Linked DNA regions of Homo sapiens: region 1 is linked to region 2. Evidence: fine-mapped expression QTL. A gene starts in region 2. The other region holds a variant in brackets. All regions are shown on one strand. Distances are from middle to middle.

Region 1 (15,975 bases), 97 kb before region 2:
AAATAGATTGAATGTGAGAGGATAGAAAAAGAGTCACCATGTAAATATTCACCACAAGGGAGCTGAGGTAGCTATCCTAATATCAGACAAAAGAGATTGTAATGCAAGAAGTGTTACCAAACATAAAGAGGGGCACTTTATGTGATCAGGACTGAATCCAACAGAAAGATATCACAGTCCTAAATCCAAACACACTCAATAACATAGCTTCAAAATACAAAAAGTAAGAAATTGACAGATCTAAATTCCACTGAGATTGGGAGGCCAAAGCAGGCGTATCACTTGAGGTCAGGAGTTTCAGACCAGCCTGGCCAACATGGTGAAACCCCATCTCTACCAAAATTACAAAAAATGAACTGGGCTTGGTGGTGCATGCCTGTAATCCCAGCTTCTCAAGAGGCTGAAGCAGGAGAATCACTTGAATCTGGGAGGCGGAGGTTGCAGTGAGCCGAGATCATGCCACTGCACTCCAGCCGGGGCAACAGAGAGACACTCCATCTCAAAAATAAATAAACAAATTCCACTGAGGGAAGTCATTGATAGAATTCAAGACAAGTCTGAAGAGTGAAACACTACTAATTCTGAACTCATTATCACAAAGCTCCTAACTTGTATGAGTCCTGACTGGCATGAAGTTGTCTCAGGGACTCAAACGGGGGCAGCAGTTTGATGGTTAGCTTCATCTAGCCCACTAGATCTCTTGCAAGGTGAGACCTCTAGAAAACATCTCCAGCACTTCATTTAAAGTATTATGGGTATATTATATCCTTAAGTAAGAAACGGTGCAGCCCATCTGCATTTTTCTAAATGAATTCCAATCAGGGTCAGCAGGACACCAGGGCCCTGTCCCAGACTTGAGATCCACCAGCTCCTGTTTTTGTCAAAAAATAAACATAATCTGGCAGCTGCATCTTGGAACCCGGCAGCTCAGGAGTCCTCATCAGACACTTAGAACAGCAAAGGTCTCCAGGATTATGGTCCAAAGGGTCATAAATATGTAGCGAATTTTAAAATGCTGGTTTCCTCCCCAGCAAGGAGTACATCACTCAGTTCTGCTGTGTCACCAGTAATATCTACCCCAAAAGCTACTATTTCAGGAGGACCATTTATCTCTCTCCATCCTGTCTGCGTAGCAGGCCATTGCCTGCCCCCACAACACTCACTGCCCCCTCTCAAAATCTCAGGCCATAATCTCTGCATTAGAATCACTTTCTCCAGAAACAGATCATTCTGCTACATTTGCCCAGCTTTAACCTTCAATTTCAAGTTTGCTTCAGAACCCACAACCCAGCAGTACACAGTGATTGTCTTTTCTTCTTCTACTGCAAGCTTTGTAGTCTAATATGTACCACAGGAAGAAAATACACAGGACAAGTTTGGTTAGTCTGAAATTTCCTTATTATCTCTAAGAGTGCTGTGGGTGGTTGAGGCACTCTGGAATGTCATGGGACTTTAGCTTACTGTAATTTACCAGTTGTGAAATATATCAGTTCCTTTTTCTTTTCTTAAAATTTTCTTTTATTAAAGAGTCAACAAATTTAGCACTTGATGGGTCCCCTTAAATGTAAATAGCCAGGTACCTTTAGAAGTCTAAAAGTAAAATGAAACTAACCAAATAGTTAGTGGCTTCTCTACCGGTGTTGGCCAAATTGGGAGAGACAGAGGACCTAGAAATTTATATCTTTCAATTATTGAATAGGAAAAATTAAAGAAATATAGCTATCATTTAATCCAGCTTCTGTCTCTCATAAAAAATGGATTCAGTGGCTTGTGCAAACCAAATGTCCCAGACCTCAGAAGCTCCAGAGACCCAAATCAGGCCCCACTTCCAGTCTGTAACACAGCCCCAGCCTGTAATGCTCCAACTTAGTTGGTCAAAAGAACTTAGTATTTTATCAGATTCTTCCCCCTCACGTCCAGCCCGCCAAATATCTCAAGGGAACCCAGGAGGTGACACGATCCACACTCCCTCCTAACAGCCACAACTGCCCCTCCAGCCCCCAGGCCTGCCCTGCAGCCTTCCCACCCTTCCCCAGGCCGCTCTCCCCAGCCCTGGCCTCCTGCGTTCCTCTTGTGCAGCTTCTCTCGGGCACAGACACAAACCTCACCGGAGTTGTGTGGGAAGATCCCAAAGCCCTTCCCAATGCCACCCTGCAGGGTACTGGGATGCATGGGGGTAGTTGTGGCCTGTGGTCCCACTCATGCCCCTGCTTCTTGTCCCTCATGTCACTTCTTTCCCAGGTGAACATGGTCCTTTTTTGCCTTCAGTCCCCAAATCCACCTGTACAAATTTGCCAGATATGGCAGGCTCTCCATGAAGGTTTTGGGATAACACAGAGGGAGCACAGCGTACCCACCAAACAGAACAACCTTGAGGTAGAATAGGGTCTGAAGGCAGGGAACCTAAGGCTGTTTCACATTGACTTCATAGAACTAAATTGAAAGGAAAACCCTAACTTTCCATGCCTAAGTAACAAAAGGACCAGAGGCTACTCCCTTTGCAAACCCCCACCTTTTCTACAGGGCAGATGGGAAACTGAAAGTATCTCTGATTGGTGCCAAGCAACCAATCAGATGTTTGCATAGGAGTGTAACTTCATAACTTCACTTCAGCCTCTGACTGGTTGCTGTCCACAGCCAATCAGACTGATTGCGGACCAAGTCTTCCTTTGCATAAAAGTGCAACTTTGTAACTTCACCTTAGCCTCTCATGCTAAAGTGAATCTTAGGAGTTTGCATAGGAGTGTGACCCTTGTAACCACTTCAGCCTCTGAGTGGAAAGCAACCAGATTGATTGCAGGCCACCACTTCATTTACATGGGTGAACACCAGGTGGCCAGTGGGAAACCTCTAGGAGGTATTTGGACCCAAGAAGATTGTGTATCAGGACCCTTGTGTCCCTATGCTCGGGCCCACCCCCACACTGTGGACAGTACTTTCATTTTCAATAAATCTCTGCTTTTGTTGCCTCACTCTTCCCTTACTTTGTTTGTGTGTTTTGCCCAATTCTTTGTTCAAGATGCCAAGAACCTGGACATGCTTCACCAACAGCAACCTGAAATTGAAAACCGCTAATCATTGTTCTTAAAAGGTCCTTGGCCATCCAAGCCCTGGGGGTTTTCTACTGGCAGCCCTGATCTCATACTCATCCCACCACCAGTCCCTGGGTCCTCCCCATCCTTCTGCTCTTATCTCCACTGCTTCTCCTTTCCCAGGCTCTTCTTCCCTCTCCAGAGCTACCCTGACATTTCAGTTTCATCTTCTTTTATTGTACTGTGTGTTTCAGCAATCTGAGTGTTACTGTCTCCCACTCATCCTCACCTTTTGAAGAAAGAACCAAAAACAAAAACAAAAAAAGTCAATATAGGCCTTTCAAGATACTCCAAAAACTTAAGAAAAAAGTGTTAAGGCTATATTACAAGACCCCAGAAAAATGATGCTCAGAAGACAAAAGCAGTAATTTTTAGTTTAAATAGTACTTTTTCTCTGGCAGTAAGTACATCAGGGAGAGTCAAGACTTCCTCTTGGAAAAGTATGCCATCTGGTTCTTGTCATACTGTTGTGCTCCTTAACTCATTTCATGCAAAATTTCCAGCACCATGTTTGAGGGACCCTGATTACTCCTCATCCATGCAGTTTCAGAGCCACAGGAGAGATGCATGTGGGTGGGCAGAAGTGGAAGTTGTTTATGAGCATGAAGTATTTCTGAGAAATGAACGCATTGATGTTGGGATTTGAAATCTGATTTATCTCTTTGATGATTACGGGAGGAAATTTTATTATAAACAATAATATTTGCTGGCATATGCATGGATGTCTGAACTCAGATGATAAAAACTAGAGGATTTTGAGCATCTTGGAAAAAAATTGTACAATTAATTTAAGATTTCTTACATGACCTAGAAAATGAAAAGGGGAAGCAAATACACTGGAAAAAAAAGAAGGTGGAGGAGGATCACATTACTCCTTCACAGTTAATTAGAAGAACTTTCAACCAAAACACATAACTGGGTAACAAATACCAGGTAATTTTCTTTGACTGAATTTTTTTTCACTTCATTTTCTTTGAAGTGAAAAAAAGTAATTTTTAAATACAGGAAATAATATTTTATGACTGAGTATTCTCTTCAAAGAATCTGGGTCAGCAGCTCATTTCAAATTTTCAGTGCCTAGAGGACGATAATACTTAGTGCTGTTTGCTGGTGATTTACAACACTTTCGTGGCTTAAGACCAAGAATATACATATTAAAAATCATGCTCTGCCTGAATCCAACAAGCAGATGCCCCACCTTCTTTTAAGGAAGAACATGACAATAATGAACGGATAATAGAGTACAAACAAAGACACTCAAACTGCATTTCCTAATGTTGCAAATGTTAATATTGAGTAACAAAGCATCATTTCTATTAAAGCTGGCCTTCAGCCACTCCCTTATGAGGTAGGTGGAAAGAAATCTTTTTACTTTCCCATAATTCTACTACTTACGGGAAAGCAAGTTGACTTTGCCCAGCATTGATGCAAAGAGCATGACACAGAGTTCAAGCCGCAGCACTGCTGCTCAGGAGAGTGGAAAAGAGAAAAGTTATTGGCACAATAGCAACCAAGTGTTTCATCTAAATGTTCTGTTTCTTGAGCTCCCAGGTAACTCAGCTTCACATCTTTTCCTTGTACAGGTCAACTCCACTTAGGTAGAATGTGAATATATAGTATGAGAGGCCAAAAACCCATACCTATATAAGCAAAATTATCTCCCCCTACTGCCAATTCATAAAAATAACACCTGCCAGAATGGAACAGAATGCTGAAAAGTCTACCTTGAAAAGATGAGCGATTTTCAAGCCAAGAAAACTTGAATGTATGAAACCCCCTAGAAAGAATGTGTCATCCAGGGGGTAATTGGCCCATCGCAGAAACATGGAAAAGAGGAAAAGGAAGACAGCAGGGCACAGTGTTCATAAGAAAGAGACACAGGATGCTTTTTAAGAAACTTGGGTGTGAAAGCAAAACAGGCAATATTTAGAAAGGAACTTTTGGTCAATGGGTGGAAATGGGTTAAAATAGGAGCCATTTGCACATAATTATATTCTAAGGGGAAGGAAGCAATAGAGAGAGCAATTGAAAATGTAAGGAAGAGAGGGAAGAACTGATGTGGGTGAGGGTGCATGTTTAGAACACAGGCTGGGAAGAGTCGGCCGCGGGAGTCACACTGCTAATAAAAGGCAGAGACCAGGGGTTTTTGGACCTGGGTGCAAATTGTGGTCTTGCCACTTTCTATCTGAGGGACCTTGTCACCCTGATGGTGAAAAACAAGCCTGTAACAGAAGAAAGGAAAGACAAGAACTGGGAGGCTGTGATAAGGGAGCTGCATATATCAGCAGTGCAGCAAGTCTGGCTGTTGACATGGTTCTTGGTGAGCCCAAGAGAGCTGACTGCTGGAAAAGAGTAGAGGAGAACATTTTCAGCCTCAGAAATATCACTGGCCTCTGATGGGAGAGATAAGTGGTCTCAGGGCCTAATGAGTGCTGGAGAATTCATTCATTCATTCAGTGAACATGACTGAGGCCTCTCACTTTGCTAGACATTTTGGAAGACAGGGGTCAAAATCACAGTTCCTACTCTCAATTAGCTCACAGCCCTGTACTAGTGATGGACAAAGAACCAGTATGTGACAGTTCAGACTAATAAGCCCAACAAGAGAGGGATATACAGGACACTGTGGGACCCCTAAAGGGAGCACCTTGTGCAGAGGTAGAAGGATAGGAATGAACGAGGGGTGACGGGTAACAGGAAGAGAGAGAAGCACCGCAGGAGTCTCTGAAGAGTGTTCACAGGGGGTGCGAGGCTTGCTGTGCAGAAACCAATAGGGGCAGGTGAGAAATGCTGACCCCAAGGGATGAGCAGGCTCATGTCAGGGTGCTACAACCGTCCCCTCCTCTTCACTCTTTCCTGCACCCCAGACTCCAAGTCTTAAACTAGGTTATCTCCCCAGTGGCCTGGCCTGCCCCCCGAATGCTCTCAAACCAGTATCTTCTAACCCTAGTCAAAAATTACCCCTTCCCTTCAGCTAGCCATTAGAATTGAAACAAATTCCCACTGCCATGTGAAAGTCTGATTATCCTACTGTTCCCAAGGCACCAGCCTTTTAGTGGGATGTTTGCTGTAGTAGATTGTATCTTCCAAAAATGGCCACAAAATGTTTCTGAGTCCACATGCTCATCCAGAAACTTTCTACTCCCTCATTAAGAGATAGAATCTATTTCCCTTCCCCTTGAAATTGGGCTGCCTTTGTGACTTCTTCAATAAAAAGAGCTGCTTGGAACCCCCACCCACAGCCCTTACCTCCCCTGCATCCATGAGCACACCCCTCTGGGACTATACTGTCTACCATTGCCTCCCTGACTTGGGACTTTGGCTCTGGAGTTCACTCCCTACCCCAAGGCCATAAAAAACCCCCACTGCACTCTTTAGTCCCTGGGCTCCAGCCACTGCCCTCTCCCCAGATTTCTCTGTTTTCTGCCATCTCTGTGGGATCCGCATAATCTGCCTCCAGCAGTTTCTGGGAGTGAACCCAGCTATCTTGCTGAAGGTAGGGTAGGGGTGGATGCAACAATGGGCTGATTGTTATCAATATGTATGGCAAGATATTATCTTGAGATATTAATCTGTGGGTTTTTCTTTGCTCACTTCCTTGTACAGTGACCAAACAGCCTCACGCAAGAGTACAGTTGGTAAAGAGGGACTGAAAAGAGCCAAAAATGTCAACGTTCATATTTGTGACTCTAAAACAGCATCCAAGAATCAAAAAAGCAAGGCTTGGGGCACAAAGCACAGAGACATGTGGACCAGGGACAGGGATATACAGACAGCCCTATCCCAGTGCCTCCAGGGAGACCAGAGTAAGGTGTGCTGGGCCGAGGGAGGGGAGGAGCACATGGTGAGGAGCAGGTCCACATTGGAAGTCTTGGGAGCCCCAGGAGCCCCTCAGCTGGTTGCATATTCCCAGAGATGTTTGCCAAGCCCTGATTACATATCCACACTCCCCTGAATGAACACACCCTCCCCATTCCAGTGTCTAAGGACTCTCATGAGCCCTGCAGATCTGTTAGGAACACTTTCAGCTCTAAGCAACAAAAGATATGATTAACAGTGCCTTAAACACTACAGGTGTATTCTTTCACACAACAAGAAGGCTGTAAGTGGGTAGTTTGTTGGTAAAAATGCAGTTTATCCAGGACCTAGCTCATGAGCTTAGGATTCAACTAGTTCTGGAATCATCCTTAGGAATCTATAATTCTGAAAACTTCCTAGGTGATTCTAATTTGCAATCAGATATGGAAGCCACTTCTCCCAAGTTTACTAAGGCTGCTGTACTCTCCCCTCTTCTGA[G/A]TTTTCGGAGTCCATTAGCTTTCAGAGGAGTCAACAGTGCTACCAGTGAACACCTGACTAATTTATTCACTCAAATGGTCAGCACACCGTAATTGCTCGCTTTTTACCTGGTAGCATCAGCTCAGTGAGGGTTGTGAACTGGGCCTAGAGACATGAGAATTCAGCAGCATTTCCAAACTGGGTAGAATTTCCACAGACTATTTCAAGTGCTTTTTTTTTTTCCATTCAAGAAAGATGGGGCAACCAGCCAAGTAAACATGGTTGTTTTTGTCTGTTTTGTGTTGCTAAAACAGAATACCTGAGACTGGGTAATTTATAAACGATGATTTATTTGGCTCATGTTCTGGAGGCTGGTGCTGGAATCTGGTGAGGGCCTTCTGGCTATGCCATTTTCTGGTGGAAGCGAAAGAGAGAGAAAACAGGGCCAAACTCATCCTTTTATCAGGAACCCACTCCCACAGTAACTAACCCACTCCCAAGATAATGGCATTAAGACTGTCCTGATGACCTCATCACCTCTTAAAGGTCCCACCTGTCAACACTGCTGCATTGAGGATTAAGTTTCCAACACATGAAACTTGAGGGACACATTTAAACCATAACAATGGTGGGCTGAACATTGTCTTTTGCCTATATTCCCACCCCCAAAATTCACTACAGTATCGAGATTTTGTTAAAGGCAAAAAACAAATAAACAAACCATCTCAAGGACAAGGCTAAAAGAGAAAGGAGCAAGTGTGGAGAGAGAGAGGTAAACACGATGTCGGAAACCGGAAAGCAGGTGGTAAATGATGAGTAACTTAGAGACCAGGCACAGGTTGCAGAGAGGAGGCAGGAAGACAACAGACTGGCCCCGGAGCACCTGGTAGGCATAGAATTGGAGGCCCCAGGAACCTCTCTGGTTGTGGGGTGTTGGTTAAAAGGCTATACTAAATACAGCTTGATCCTTTGATCGCTTCTCCACTCCCATCAGACAAGGCACCTCTCTCATCCTACAGAAGACATACCAGAGAAGGGGATAAGGGCCAAGTCAGCATGCTGAATGGCGAGAACAGCCTGCAGCCTTTCGCCACTGCATCTGAGAATCCTGGTGACTCAGCTTAGACACATGGGGCGACAGGCTACAAATTTCTTCTCTGGAGAAACTGAGCTCCTCAAAGAAAAGACTTATAAACAATGACTACTGGGGATTATAATCAAATATACATATTCAGAGAAAGCCAACACAGCACAAAAAGCAGAATAAACTTTAAGGAAAACTGTAATTAATATCTTCGGAGAAAGAATATAACTGCATCTACAAAAAAGAACAAACTACTCATAAAACAAAAATGAGCTCTCAGTTCTAAAAAAATATAAAAACAGGAAAAAAAAATCCAATAGAATCCAAACAGGCTTTACTGGGAAGGTACTGGAGGATATATTCCACAAAATGAAAGAGCAAACCAGGAAAAAGGCATACAAAGGATTCAAGAGAGAGGGATCCAACTAAGGAGAACTGAACGACACATCAGAGCAGGAAGCCAATGGGCTCCAGAGGGGATGTGTTAAAAATAAAAAATCAGTTGATTACCTGATGTGTTTGAACTATTAAGAGGAGATTAACACTGCTGGCAATGCGTTGGAGGAGAATTAGGGACAGAAAAATATCAAAACAAGATAATTTTGAACTCCAGGGAGAAAAAGAAGTTGTATAACAACGGAAGTATTATCAGTGTACACTGTGTGCCTTACCGGGGAAAACATTTATAATAATCACAACAGTTAACTTTGAGTAGTTACTTAATTAAAAAATACAATATAATTACATTGGAAGAATAGGGGAACAAAAGTGCTCAATCTTCATCTTTCATAGGAAGAAGTCAAAGTTTCTGCCTAATCTGAAAAATCAACACAGAAGCATATAATTTAGATACCTGGGGAAACATGTGGAACTTTCAACTAGCCGCGCCAGTTGAAAATGGGACTGGTTTCTCTGATGAGAATGGCTGGGTAGGAAATGGTAATCTGTCAGACCACAAGGAATTTTTCTAGTCAACAAACTCCAGATGTTTGTGATTCTTTTCCTCCTGGTTCACTGGGTTCAGCCAAAGTCCTCCCTAGAAGATTGCCAAGTGTAAGCTGTGAGGAAACACACAATGAACTTCATTTGAACTCTGTTTCATCTTTTCTTTTTTAAGCCAAAAATGTCATAACAAATAGAAAGGAGACAAAGTAGATGCAGATATGCGGGGGTATTAGTGCAGAGGGTCTATCCCTTGAGCCTTTCTTACCAACACGAAGAACTGCGAGTGGCTTCTCTACTGACCCAATGGACTGAGCATTTCCCACACATTCAAATGAATGAAAGAGTGAACGAATGAACAATAGACAAGCCCATTATTCTTCATGCATTGTGAGTGCCTAACACACATTAGGTACTACACTGTTTGGCTCCAGCACTTCTATCCGATTCACTCAGAGTTTTAACGACCTCTGTGTGTATTGTTATGTATGAAGTGGGCACCACTGATGTGCCAGGGATACTCCCCATCTTCAAAAGTATTACAATCCATTTGGGGAGGCAAAATGTGAATAAAGGAAAATTTAAACCAGTGACCACAGACAGCCGAGTTGTGGGTGCAGAGGAAGGAGCTACTGTGGGCCTGGTGTGGAGTGGACAGGCTTTCCCAACACTGGCTGCAAATCCTAGAGTATTTCCCACATATGTGTTCGTGCCGAGGATGGGAATAGGGAAGACAGTGTCACACCAACTGACACCTGTTAACAAAAGTCAGCAAAGAGCAAACGTGGTCGGCTTCCCGCAAGCATTCTCATGTTTCCCTTGGTGCTTTAACTCTAAGGCAGAGAAACAGCCATTCTCTTTCCTTCTCTGCCGGCAGGGAAGTGGGAGGGGCACTGGCCAGCTGCCTGTCCTGCTCACTCACAGTGACTGCAGAAGTCAATTGATTCCCTACTTTCCCAACTCCCGCCCCCACCACCAACCTTGGGTACTTCTTCCCATTGGAATAATGATTAAACCATTGTCCATCAGTAACTGAGAAACTGTTCCCTGATCTGGACCCCTTTTTTTGGTGTTTTCTAGTGCTGGAATTCTGTGTCTCCTCTCCTGTGTGCTCAGGAAACCACCAGGTCCAATGTCAGCCCCATTAGTCAATATCAGAGCAGCCCCTTCCTAGTTGTAGGAGGAGTATCCTAATGGAGGAGAACTCTTGGTCTCACTCTGCAATTGCTCAGACTTCCAAGTGTAGAGTCTTTACTAAAGGCATTTCTTTAGCTCTGGCTACTTTGCTTTTATTTACTCATAAAAATATCAGGAGGTGCAATACACTTTCAGTTTTATAAATATTCCTTTTTAGCAAAATGCATACTCTTTGCATTTCAACCTCTCTGACTTTGGGAAATCAGATGACTATAAGAGGAGCACAGTCTTTAAAAGGCTCTTGCATTCTGTGGGACAGTTAATTCCGGAGACTTGGCTGCTTGTGTGCATTTTGGAGTGCTCAGCTCTAACTACATGCATCTAGAACAGACGCACACAGGAGACCCTCAAAAAATATTTTTTAAACAATAAAAAATTAGGCCAGGTGCGGTGGCTTATGCCGGTAATCCCAACGCACACCTGTAGTCCCAGCTACTTGGGAGGCTGAGGCAGAAGAATCGTTTGAACCCAGGAGGCGGAGGTTGCAGTGAGCAGAGATCGTGCCACTGCACTCCAGCCTGGGTGACAGGGCAAGGCTCTGTCTCAAAATAAATAAATAAGAATAAAAAATTAAAACCTTGCACCTGATGGCTGTAAGCTTATCATACCACAATATGAGAAACTGTTGGCAATTTCTATTTTGTGTTCTGTTCACATACATTTGTCCATCCTGTGAACTTACATAGACTCCACCAATTTGTTTGAGGCTGCCCTGAGAACTTATGCTGATTAACCTAGTGGCTCTATGTTCAGGTGTAGGGAGAAAGGCCTCTCTTCTTGCTCTTTCCAAACGAAGTACTTCTTGAGATCAGCACCAGGAGGACAGGGCTCCAGCTGCCATTTTCCTTGAACCACGCAGGCCCTCTAGCATAGATTTGGCGTGTAGGAAAATCTCCATGAGTGCAGAAAGCAGCTGAAGAAGTCACAGGAGGAAGATCCCCATAAGCCCTGCCCCAAACATGCTCCATTTAAGGATTCTGTTATGGAGGCTTAACACCAACTATGTGTCAGTGGTAAATAAGACAGACAAAGCTCTGCTTTCAAGGAACCTATAGTCACATGGAGGAGCTGGAAATTGCAGGGTCCTGTGGGGGCACAGAGAGGAACATGTGGCCCAGATCGCCACAGAGAAAGTAACCTCTAAATGCTGACACCTAAAAGATAAGTAGCAATCATTAAGCCAAAGCAGGTGGGCGAGAGATGCTGTGATTTATTTGGAATAAACCTAGAACAGAGAATGCAAGGGGAAGAAGTAGCCAAAGGGGAGGTAAGAGATGCCAGGGGAAGATCACATAGGGATCGTGTTAGAAGGTTTGTCTTTATCCTGGGAGAAATCGGGAGTCACTGAAGTAATTTAAGCAAGGAAGGGACATGATCAGATTTGCATTTTAGAAATATCAAATAGTGATTTAAACCAGGGGAGTGGTAGTGGAGATGATGAGAAGTAGCAGAATTTAAGAATCATTTAGGAGGCAGAATTTATAGATCATGGAAACTGAATGAATGAGATGGATGAGAGAGGGGGGGAAGTCAAGATCAAGCTGCAGGTTTCTAGTACAAGCAAGTGGGAGAATGGAGGTGCCATTCCTGAGCTAGAGCACGTAGAAGAAAAACAGGTTTGGAGAAAGTGGGAAGACAATGATTTTGTTTGAGCTGGTTGAATCTGAGTCACCTGTAGGACATCCAAGTGTAGACAGATGTCCATCACATGGTTGTGCATTTGGGTCTGGAGCTCAGCAGAAAATCTGGGATTTGGAAGGCATCAGCATAGAGATGGCTGTGAAAGCCATGAAAGTCAGGGGGTGGGCAGGGGGTGTAAACTGGTTAGTTGATGGATTAATTGGTTGGTTTAAAGGTAATACAGACAGTTAATACTAGCTCTCCAGCTGAAGAATCAGAGCACATTTCAAGAAGATCAGTTTAACATTCCAAGGCTAGAGCTTAACCAAGACCACGCTAACTCTGTTCAAGGGCCTAGAGCCGCACTGCCCAACACAGCAGCCACTAGCTGCATGTGCTTTCTTAAATTTAAATGAATTTAAATTTAATTTAAAACTCACTTCCTCAGTCATACCTGCCACCTTTCCCATGCTTGATAGCCACATGTGACTAGTGACTACCATATTTGGCAGCACAGATATTATGGAACATTTCCAACATCACAGATAGGTCCATTGGACAGTGTTGCCCTAGTTATTTGCATTGTCAAAATTAAGAGCTGACGCAAACACCACAAGCATTGTGCAGCTTAAATTAGCAGAGGAGGGCAGCAAGATGATGCATGTCCTTTCCAAGCCACTCATCACCCAAGAAAAATATACTTAAACCAGGCACCCCAGATGCAGCCTGTCTTGTGCTCCAGGAGAAGGAGCCCCTGCAGCTCTGCCTTTTGCTATAGACTTTGAGACTGAGAGCAGGCGGCAAAACCTAACCAAGGATGTGACTGGAGGCTTTTGTGGGAAGGAAGCCTCTTAGTGGAGATGAATCTCCTGCCAGCTGATCAAGGGTCCCCCTTCCAGGGTTCTAGAGGAAGTGAGCCATGGAAATTCCTTAGGCAGGGTAGAAGCCCTGTGCCCAGTGGCTTGTTGCCAGGAACCCAGAGAGATTCAGGTCATTCGGGGGACAGTACTACCAGGGCCTTCTCAATGATAAAGCACATTCTATGCTTCTTTTCTAAATTAAGCTTTAAACCTTTATTGACAATGTTATATTAATGATATAAAAAGTTAGACTCACAGGACATTGGAAGTCATCTGGTTTTCTCCTGACACAGCTGGGAGAGATGACCCTTCCTCTGCTGATGGTCCTCCAGTGACCTCCCCAGTGGAGGATTTATAATTTAGATAGATGTGTGTGTGCATGCGTGAGTGCGTGTGTGTGTGTGTGCGAGGGAGAGAGAAAGAGAGAGAGAGAGGCTCTCTACTGGTTCTGTTTCTCTGAAGAACATTGAATAATACACAGATAATATCCAGTTCAACCACATTCTATTTAATAGCTACATGGCAATCCAAATCCATGTTGATGGATATTTGCGCTGTTTGTTACAGTGCCACAGTGAACATTCTCAGTCATGTCTCAGTGTGTGCAAATGCACTTTTAAAATGCATTGTAGAAGTGGAGTTGCTGGATCAAAGGGCATGGACATTTAAATTTCATTAGGTGTTGCCAATTTCCTTTCCAAAAAGTTGCACCAATTTACATGCTACTAACCAGGAATAAGAATGCCTGTTTTTCCATGTAAGAAGTGGTTGGTTGGTTGCTTAGTTTGCTGGTTGAAGATGGGCAACACTTAAGCATGCTTAAAACAATGAAATGAAAGAAAGGGGCAGGAGAAATAGAGAAAGAGAAGATTATAGAAAGGGAGAAGCTAGAGGAGAAAGAGCACAGAGTGCATGTGCAGGGATTCACCCTGGAGAGGAGGAGGGACTCTCCTTCCATCACAACAAAAAGAGGAGAATGGGGTGGAGCTAGTCAGTTTGTAAGTTTGGTGGCAGGAAGAGGCTTTTATTTTTTCTGAAAGGTAAAAGGCATGAGTGGTTGCTTAAAGTGATGGTGGAGGAATTAGGTTGGGAGGTTGGTACAGAATAAATATTAAGGTAACCACCATGAAGAATAGGAGGGAAAGTTGACTGGTAAAACAAAGAATGATTTCCAAGCAGCATTTAAGTCTGATCGTTTATTTTTAGCCAAACACAAGTTTTCAAAAACACTTCCACTCAGTCTCCATCAATACATCCCTCCCTCCTAACAGAACACAATGGAGGAGCCACTTGCAGGCAGGCCACCATCTGAGAATCCCTCAAGACCAGGAAGGCAAGTGGGGACCTTCCCAAGCATGGAAGTTAAGCCCCCACTGCAGGGTTTTTTGTGTACCAGAGGCATCCATGTTCTCCTAACTCTATAACCAAGGGCCTCTCTCCACTTGGTTACAGAGGCACCTATGGTGTGGTTTCAGGATGTCCTCAAAACATCTCCCCCATCACTCCCGAAAATTCACCTCAGAGAACTAAGAGTTGGTCCTTGCTTCTTGCTGAGGTACACAACAGATGCCCACTGCAGCCTATATTCCTTAGTAAGGACTAAGATCCCTTAGTCCAGTCCTATTGTCCAGCCCTCTCTCCAACAGTTCATCCCATGCTAACTCTGATGGTGCCGCTGCACTCCAACCTGGGCTACAGAGTGAGACCTTGTCTGAAAAATAAATAAAAAATAAGACACCTATCAATGACCCCCTGCGACAGTGCAGCAGTGGGGGAAGGACCTCGTAGGCAGGTTGTCTATGTGCTGCCAAGGGCAGGTCAGAAGGAGGGACCCTAACAAGCTGCCTTCGCCTTGAAGCTCCGTGTTTCACTGTTTGGCCCTGCCAACACATAGAAATTAGATACCCACATGTTTTTTCAAATTAACAAACCTAAAATTGTATTTATTTACTTTTCAATGAATTTGAATCCTCCAGTGGTACAGCATCACATGGATTCTGTGCCCAATGGCCTTAGCAGGAGGGTGGCTTTGGAACTTGGCACAAACCACGCTGTTCTTTCCTTGGGCACAAGTTACCTTTCCCCAGATGACTCTGGTTTTGTTTGATTTGCTGCCAGGGCCACTGTGTTGTTCTTTGCACACATAAGTACATCTGTTTCCCAAATAAAATTCAGTTTCATCTCGGGCATAAACACCTTCAATTTCAAGAACAGTTGTGTGCTCCCTCTGGTTCCAGAAATGTCACTTCTAGCAAAAGTGGCCTCAGGGCACAGCCCTGCAGACATGTTTGCTGTTTCAGAAGCCCTGTTCCCATGGGCCTCTCCAGGCTCCAAGAGGGCAAAAAGAATGAATTTGATATCTTTTGATAGAATAAGAATCTCTGTTTCATTAGAGAAGAACAAAGTACTATCTTATACAATGTATCCCAAAATAAACTGTTTTAATTGCTGAATCTAAGACGTAGTGATACATGTAGTCCTAAATCTTACTCCAATTCCTTAAAACTAGCTTGAATTTCCAGAAGGTTGGTGTCCTACTATTTGTGATGAAAAATTAACACTACAAAAAAAATAGCTCCACTAATAATTCCACCAGCGAAAAATTACTTCACTTCTCACTATTGAGATTTTGAAAGACTGCGTATCTGTTTACCTGGACATCTTCCTAAATTTCATAATTAATCCTCAAATGATGTAAGTAAAAGTTCTGCAGGTCAGTAGGAGGAAACAGAATTGAATTTTATAAAGTATTAAGATTTCTCAAGATACGGCCAAAGGCCATACTCCCTTGGGCTCTGGAGGATCATGTTCTCAGGAAAAGTAGAGTTAGGGTTGGAGAGAACTCAAAAAGGATATGAGGGGTGTAGCAGGATGTGGTCATTGCGATTTAGGAGGCCTCACCCCC
Region 2 (8,000 bases):
GCTCACTGTAGTGAGCCGAGATCGTGCCACTGCACTCCAGCCTGGACGACAGAGTGAAACTCCATTTCAAAAAAAAAGAAAAAAGAAAATCTGTTGTTCTGTGTAGCCAACATCATCAACGATCTTAGGAGACCACTGATCATTGCTGCAGCTTCCACATCAGCACTTGCTGCTTCACCTTTCACTTTTACGTTAGAAATGGCTTCTTTCCTTAAACCTCATGAACCAACATCTGCTAGCTTCAAACTTTTCTTCTGCAACTTTCTCACCTCTCTCAGCCTTCATAAAATTGAACAGAGTTAGAGCCTTCCTCTGGATTAAGCTTTGACAGAGAGAGAGAGAATGTGCAAGCACAACTGGTAGGTAGAGCAGTCAAAACATATACAATTATATGGATGAAGTTTGCTATCTTATATGGGCAGGTTTCATGGTACCTCAAAATAAATTACAATAACATCAGAAATCACCAATCACAGATCACCATAACAGATATAATAATAATGAAAAAGTTTGAAATATTACAAGAATTACCAAAATGTGACACAGAGATGTGAAGTTAGAATATGCTATTAGAAAAATGGAGGTGAGGCCGGGCGTGGCGGCTCATGCCTGTAATCCCAGCACTTTGGGAAGCCGAGGCGGGTGGATCACTTGAGGTCAGGAGTTCGAGACCAGCCTGGCCAATACGGTGAAACCCTGTCTCTACTAAAAATACAAAAATTAGCCGGGCATGGTGGCGGGCACCTGTAATCCTAGCTACTCGGGAAGCTGAGGCAGGAGAATTGCTTGAACCTGGGAGGCGGAGGTTGCAGTTAGCTGAGATTGCACCACTGCACTCCAGCCTGGGTGATAAGAGTGAGACTCTGTCTCAAAAAAAAAAAAAAAGAAAAAGAAAAATGGAGCTGATAGACTTGTTCCACATGGGGTTATCACAAACCCTCAATTTGTAAAAAACATACTATCTGTGAAACACAATAAAGTTGAATAAAATGAGGTATGTCTGTTTAAAAATGGAAAATATAATTAAGGTTTTTAATTTTAAATTTCATATTTAATGTAATATTCTGACAACTCACTTTATCAGTATATTAAATAAAACAGTATATATATCACATTGAAATTACCATTCTAACAAACTAATAAAATTCATATCTTGTGTGTACATATATATTTATTTTCATGTTTTTCTGTAGTTATTATACCAAGTATATTCTTATTCTTATTAATCACCACTTTTAACCAAAGTAATCAACTTTTGCTTTCCCAAAGAGAAAACCAGAAGACAGAAAACCAAGAAATGTCAAGCTAAAATTTTTTTTTGAGACAGGGTCTGGTTCTTTCATCCAAGCTAGAGTGCACTGGTGCAATCTCGGCTCATCGCAACCTCCTCCCTGTGCTCAAGTGAGCCACCCACCTCAGCCTCCCGAGTAGCTGGAACTACAGGCACATGCTATCACATCTGGCTAATTTGTGTAGTTTACAGACAGGGCTTCGCCATGTTGCTCAGACTAGTCTCAACCTCCTGGGCCCAAGCGATCTTCCCACCTCAGCCTCACAAAGTGCTAGGATTACAGGTGTGAGCCACTGCACCTGGTTAGCTAAATTTTTATAAATACAAATTTTAGATTACTTCTATAATTTTAAGGTGGCAAAACAACACATATATAACAACCAAAGTATCTGCACATTGTGTTAATTCATAATCATTTTATAATGTATAAGAATAAAGGTAAACTGAAACTCTCTTTAGTAACCAAAGCTCTGTATCATGTATTAGTCAGAAATTGTCCAATTATCCCAGGACTAATTGAACATTATGTAAGGGCCTGAAAGTTAACTGGAGATCTGAAAAATTATAATTTTAGTTAACACATTTGGTCTTTATAATAGAAGCATAATTTTATAAGATTAAAACTCCTTTAAAAGACATCTGTATTAAAATTTTATTTAAACACCATTTTATATTTTGTAATCTTATACAACTGATTGAATCAGTAACTTGTTTGGCCCATTTGATCAATATATAAAATTTAGAAAGTTTAGATCATGAAAAGATCAAATTCAGTTTTATATGAACTTGGAATATTTTATCATTATGTAATAAAACCTGGAAGACATATAATCAACTTTAAATAAATATTATTTTGTTACAGCTCACCCAAATTCATCTATTAATCAGAAATATTTTATACATTTTTAAAAATATAATTTATAAACTTTATATTCAAAAATCATTAAATCATGTTTAAGAGCTCCTCTTTTATCTTGAAAACTTGTTTTTTTTTTTTTTTTTTTTTTTTTGAGATGGAGTCTCACTCTGTCACCCAGGCTGGAGTGCAGTGGCATGATCTCCACTCACTGCAACCTCCGCCTCCTGGGTTCAAGCAGTTCCCTGCCTCAGCCTCCCGAGTAGCTGGGATTACAGGCGCCCGCCGCCACGCCCGGCTAATTTTTGTATTTTAAGTAGAGACGGGGTTTCACCATATTGGCCAGGCTGGTCTTGAACTCTTGACCTCGTGACCCACCTGCGTTGGCCTCCCAAAGTGCTGGGATTACAGGCGTGAGCCACTGCTCCCGGCCGTAAACTTGCTCCTTATAAACATAATAATAAAGGCTATTTAAGTTCATTTGACCACATTAATTTTTACACATTTTTTAAAGCACAATGATTTTTTTCTTAGACATTTTTGGCTGTTTATTTGGACTAGATATTCCTGGACTGCACATATAATGACAGAATGACTTAGTCTCATGAATCATCTTTCAAATTTTTAATGAAAGAAAATGAGAAACAGGAAAAGGTGAGCTACAGCCAGTTTTAGACAAATATGAAATTATCACTGTAAAACGCTAATTATCTTTTCTTTTCAAGGAGAGAGGAAAAAGCTTAAATATAAGCCATGTTATTAATAAAAAACCTTGAAGTATGGAAATAAAATATGGGCAGTCTTCTACTTAAAATGCTCTTAGACAAATAAGACAAATACTGTTCTCCGAAAGTCTTATTTTTTTATTTCTGGTGTTCTTCTAAAGTGTCTCTCAAATGAACAGTCTTCTTCATGTCAAAGTTCCCCAAATTTCACCAATTCTTTGGTAAATTTATCCCAGGAGACAGTGTAAGTTCGTATCTGACAACCCCATCGAAAATTGGCTGATATTCTGTATTTGCAAAAATATTGCCATGGGTGGGTCAGGGTTTAACAAATGCTGAACTAAGAAACGTGGAGAGGCCAGGCACGGTGGCTCATGCCTGTAATCCTAACACTTTGGGAGGCAGAGGAGGGAGGATTGCCTGAACTCAACATGGTGAAACCCCATCTCTACTAAAATACAAAAAAATTAGCCAGGTGTGGTGAAGTGCACCTGTAGTCCCAGATACTAGGGAGGCTGAGGCAGGAGAAATGCTTGAACCTGGGAGGTGGAGGTTGCAGTGAGCCGAGATCACGCCACTGCACTGCAGCCTAGGCAACAGAGCGAAACTCTGTCTCCAAAAAAAAAAAAAAAAAGGTCATGTGTGAAAGACAGTGTCTCGCAAAGCAAATTTCTCATACACGGACAAGACTGAGAAAAGTTTCATTGACATTTGATACAAGATGATGGGCAAGCAGACAGATGGTATTTAAAGGCAAAGTCAATCAGAACCCCCAAATCCCAGGAGACAATAATAAGCATGAAACTGAGGCCAAAGTCCAGAATCCAGATTTACTGCAGAATCTACATAATCAGAAAGAGATACACCTCAAGAGTCTTGGGTGTGTGCATTACTACCAAGTTAAAGGTCCTGGCCAGGCATGGTGGCTTATGCCTGTAATCCCAGCACTTTGGGAGGCTAAGGTGGGTGGATCACCTGAGGTCAGGAGTTTGAGACCAGCCTAGCCTAAACCCGTCTCTACTAAAAATACAAAAAACTAGCCGGGCATTGTGGTGGGCACCTGTAATCCCAGCTACTCTGGAGGCTGAGGCAGGAGAACTGCTTGAACCCAGGAGGCGGACGTTGCAGTGAGCCGAGATAGCACCATTGCACTCCAGCCTAGGCAACAAGAGTGAAATTCCATCTCAAAAAAAAAAAAAAAAAAAAGAAAAGAAAAGAAAAAAAGGTCTCAATCCAGGCAGCGAAGACCTTGGCCAAACTTTGGTAGAATCTCCAAGTTATCCTAGCCCAATTAACCTAAGACCACCAAGGATAAACCTGTACTTCTACAAAGTCAGGTTTATAGGCCCATTGCAATGAGGTAGACCACATACCAGAGAGAGTGCTTTGTATAAGTTCAGTTTTTAAGTTTATTTTAATCCTTGAAGTAAAATATTCAAAATGACTCAAGTTGGAAGCATGGCGTTACATCAAAACTTATCATTTTAAGATTAGTAAAGGAGAGGGGTACAGGTGCATTTTTTTATTTCTCCTGATCCAAATTACATAATCTCCCAATTTAATACTATAGTTTGCAGATTCTCATACTTTGATTTGGGCAGAACTGGTCCAAACCCACAAAAAGCTGAGGATGAGCAAGCCTCTTCCTGGACTCTCATAAGGGGAAGGGAAATGAAGGAATCGAATCACTACCTGGAGTACTGTGTACCTTGCCCTGCCAGGGACGCTGCATGCGGTGTATAAGGAAGTTGTGCTCCAGTATGCAAGCGAAGCAACCAGACTTTTTTCCCATGGACAGGAAACTAGAGTCTTCAGAGATGTCCTATATCAGCGAAAGCCCCACCCTGCACTTCTATAAAGGTTAATGAAACGAAAGATGCAATCCCAGCGAACCTAGCCCACTGACTCCCTCCCCACACCTCCACCTGCTGGTGCCTGACAAGCATGCTGGCCTCTCCTCCAGTAGGAACCAGCAGGCGGAGTAAGGAAGCCCGCTGCAGGCAGTAGTGGGGCGGGGCCTCAGAAGCAGTCAGCCCAGGGCTCTCGGATGCAGGGAGCCTGGGCCCAAACAGCAGCTTCCGGAGTCGGAAGGAGCTGAGGAAGAAGACTGACTGAAGGAGCTTGCGACTTTTCCGCCTCGGCAACCGGACCCAGCAGCAAGCAGGACGGGCGGCGCTCTGCTACTGGTCCCGTTAAGCCAGAGTAGCCCAAGCCCTGAAGTCACTGCTCATCCGGAATGGAAATCCCGCCGACCAACTACCCAGCCTCCAGGGCGGCCTTGGTGGCACAGAACTACATCAACTACCAGCAGGGGACCCCGCACAGGGTGTTTGAGGTGCAGAAGGTCAAACAAGCCAGCATGGAGGTGAGTTTAGCAGGGGGTGGTGGACAGCAGAGGCTTCAGGATTGCGCTCCCTCCACTCACCCGCGGTCTCAGCCTTTGGGTGCAGACACTCCGTGCCACCCCCTACCCACCTTCTGTTTTAGGACACACTGCTGGTATCTGGTCTTGAGATATTAAGGTTTCTGGGGGAATGTCTATACTCCAGTCTCTGGAGACAGCCCGGGACTGTTTTCACCTTAAGGCAGAGACAAAGTTTTTACGCACACAGTTACAAGAAAACGGGAACACGCTCTAGGTAAGGGGCAGCACTTTCCTTAAGTGTAAACTGTAGAAACCATTCAAAAGACTACTAAGGCTGCCACGTTTCTCATCTGCTACTCTGATCTGGACCAACAAAAGCTCCCATCTTCCAAGACTCTATTGCCTACATTTTAAGACAAATCCTTATCAGACCCTTTGACCAAAATGAAGGGGGAAACAAACAGCAAGAGAAACTGACAATCAAAGTCAAAGAATAAAAGCACTGTGGGCTGACGCTGGCCTTTAGCCACCCAAACACCGCTACCACATGACTGCCTTAAATGATGTGCACCCTCTGCTAAAGGCTTGAATTAAATGTTTAAGGCCTCAGCAATCACTAACGAGGTTTGTTTTCATTTTACGAAAATCTACTGGATTTGAGATTATCCCTTATTTATCTGACAGAATTTTAACTGCTAACAGTCTTTTAGAGGTGACACAGTAGATCTTATTTTGAAACTGTACCAGATAACAGAATTAGGTATAAATTTTCAATCTGTATCTTGATTTAAAAGTGAAATACCATTTCTTAGTCTTATATAATTTGTTAATCATTTTGCAGTTTCACTAATGTATAAGTAAAAACAATACTTAATTGTATTAAGTCTCCAATTGCTTTGCAGTAATCTGCCTCAAAATGAAATTCACATTCATTGAACATTATTTGGAGGGTACACTGAGCTTTATGAAAAAATCTTTTCAAAGGTGATATTGTCATCTTTAGAATTAAACGCTGTTTCAAACTTTCTTATGTAGAGACTTTAAGATCACAGATCCAGGGGTTAAATAAAGTCTTTTGATGATTGAAAGTGAATTGTGCCCAATTTGTATGCTTTTATCCTACTCTTTTGTTTTCATCCAAAATAAACTTGATAGGGGACTTGCTAAATTAGATGTTACATTCATGGTGACATGCCTTTTTCAAGACCTAAGGCTTTCACCATTCCCCTTCAGCCAGCCCCTCCAACCAAATGAGATGCATACTTCTAACAATGCAAGTATAATGTTGTTATAATATTTTCTTGTCTCCACTACATTTTCTTAATTTTAGGATATTCCAGGAAGAGGACATAAGTATCACCTTAAATTTGCTGTTGAAGAAATTATACAAAAAGTAAGTTAAATTTCTTTTTTCTTTGAGACAGGGTCTCACTCTATCACCCAGGCTGAAGTGCAGTGGCAGAACATGGCTCACTGCAGCCTCAACTTCCCGGGCTCAGGCCATCTTCCCACCTCAGCCTCCCCAAATAGCTGGGACCACAGGTGCATGCCACTACACCTGGCTAATTTTTGTGATCCTCCTGCCTCTGCCTCCCAAAGTGCTAGGATTACAAGCATGAGCTACCAAGCCCAGCCAAAATGTTCTTATTAAACAAATTTAATTCTAAATATTCCAGATCATCTTTGCTGATCAAATCTGTAAGATTGATTAGTTTTACCTCTTTTTAAAAAGTTGTTGTGAAATACCTGCCTCTGAAAAACACTGACCATATGGGCAAAGTTTACAAGGATCAGTTCTTTACTATCTTTGGGTATTCCTAGGTATATGAATTATTTCTACCAAACTACACAAAAAAAGACTATACACTTCAGTTCAAATGAATTTCTTAAGAAGTTACATACTCTTAGGGCAGTCTGAACTTATGCCTAATATAAATGAGTGAAGTAATTTATTCCCCAATCAATCATCTTCTTAACGTCTGCTTTTCTCATTCTATTTTTCACTGGGTTTTTAGAGAAAGAACGTGCTCTTAGATATTCAGAAGCAATAGAATGCCAGCTGATACCACCATTCAGATGAAGATCTTTCAGTAATGGGGAAGGGAAATTTTAAAGATTATACACAACTGTCAAATTATTAATGAGACAAACTTAAAAGAAAGGAACTGCAATCTGTACCACAGCCATCTTGAAATTTTAAAAAGCTTGCCTTTCTGTTGAGCATAATTCATAAAGAGATTCATTAAAAGGCATCTGAGCTGCTAGACAGCCATCTTTACAAAGCATAACCCAATGCCATAATCTTCTAATTTTATATCCAGACACAGACTGCTGCATCTGCATTTCAAAAACTTTGTTATTTCAGGAGCAAAGAGTAAGAGTAATGGAAAAACTTTAAAAGTAACCAGTCTTGAGTTGGTATATAAAGTCAGATTAAAATCTGGCCTTGCAAATGGACACCCCATTAATACTGAAATATACTGAAAGTTTTAAGACTAGAATTCATAAGATTATGACACCATATCATTTATAAAGTAAGTTATCTATTTTAGGGTATTCACATGATAAGTCTAGAATTTAATAGGCCAGGCCCAATTAGATACCTCTGAAAACAAGCACTTTGAAGTCTAGTCTAAAACAACACCATTAGGAGCCTATGCTTTAAATCATATCTCAAAGATGATAATTAATAATGAATAGCCTTCTGTATATAAGGATATTTTGCTAAATTTCAAACAGCAAGTTAAGGTGAACTGCACAGCT

Evidence for each region.
Region 1: its variant is fine-mapped to the expression of LXN in fibroblasts (GTEx, PIP 0.96).

The regions. Positions count from the first base shown.
Region 1 is chr3:158,762,812-158,778,786 of GRCh38, reverse strand. All of the region lies in intron 4 of LOC100287290 (a long non-coding RNA gene), which reads right to left. It also overlaps the pseudogene RPL35AP9. Among named protein-coding and RNA genes, the nearest start is that of MFSD1, 31 kb to the left of the region's middle. RefSeq lists an enhancer at 3,204-10,320. The variant G/A (reference allele first, on the strand shown) is at 7,389.
Region 2 is chr3:158,669,587-158,677,586 of GRCh38, reverse strand. It overlaps LXN (latexin), which reads left to right and starts at 4,939. Exons shown (of 6, transcript NM_020169.4): 1 at 4,939-5,237; 2 at 6,568-6,630; 3 at 7,977-8,000. The coding sequence starts at 5,109. The region is part of intron 13 of GFM1 (G elongation factor mitochondrial 1); the gene reads right to left. RefSeq lists enhancers at 4,566-4,755, 5,066-5,115, 4,537-5,129, 5,556-5,615, 5,130-5,722.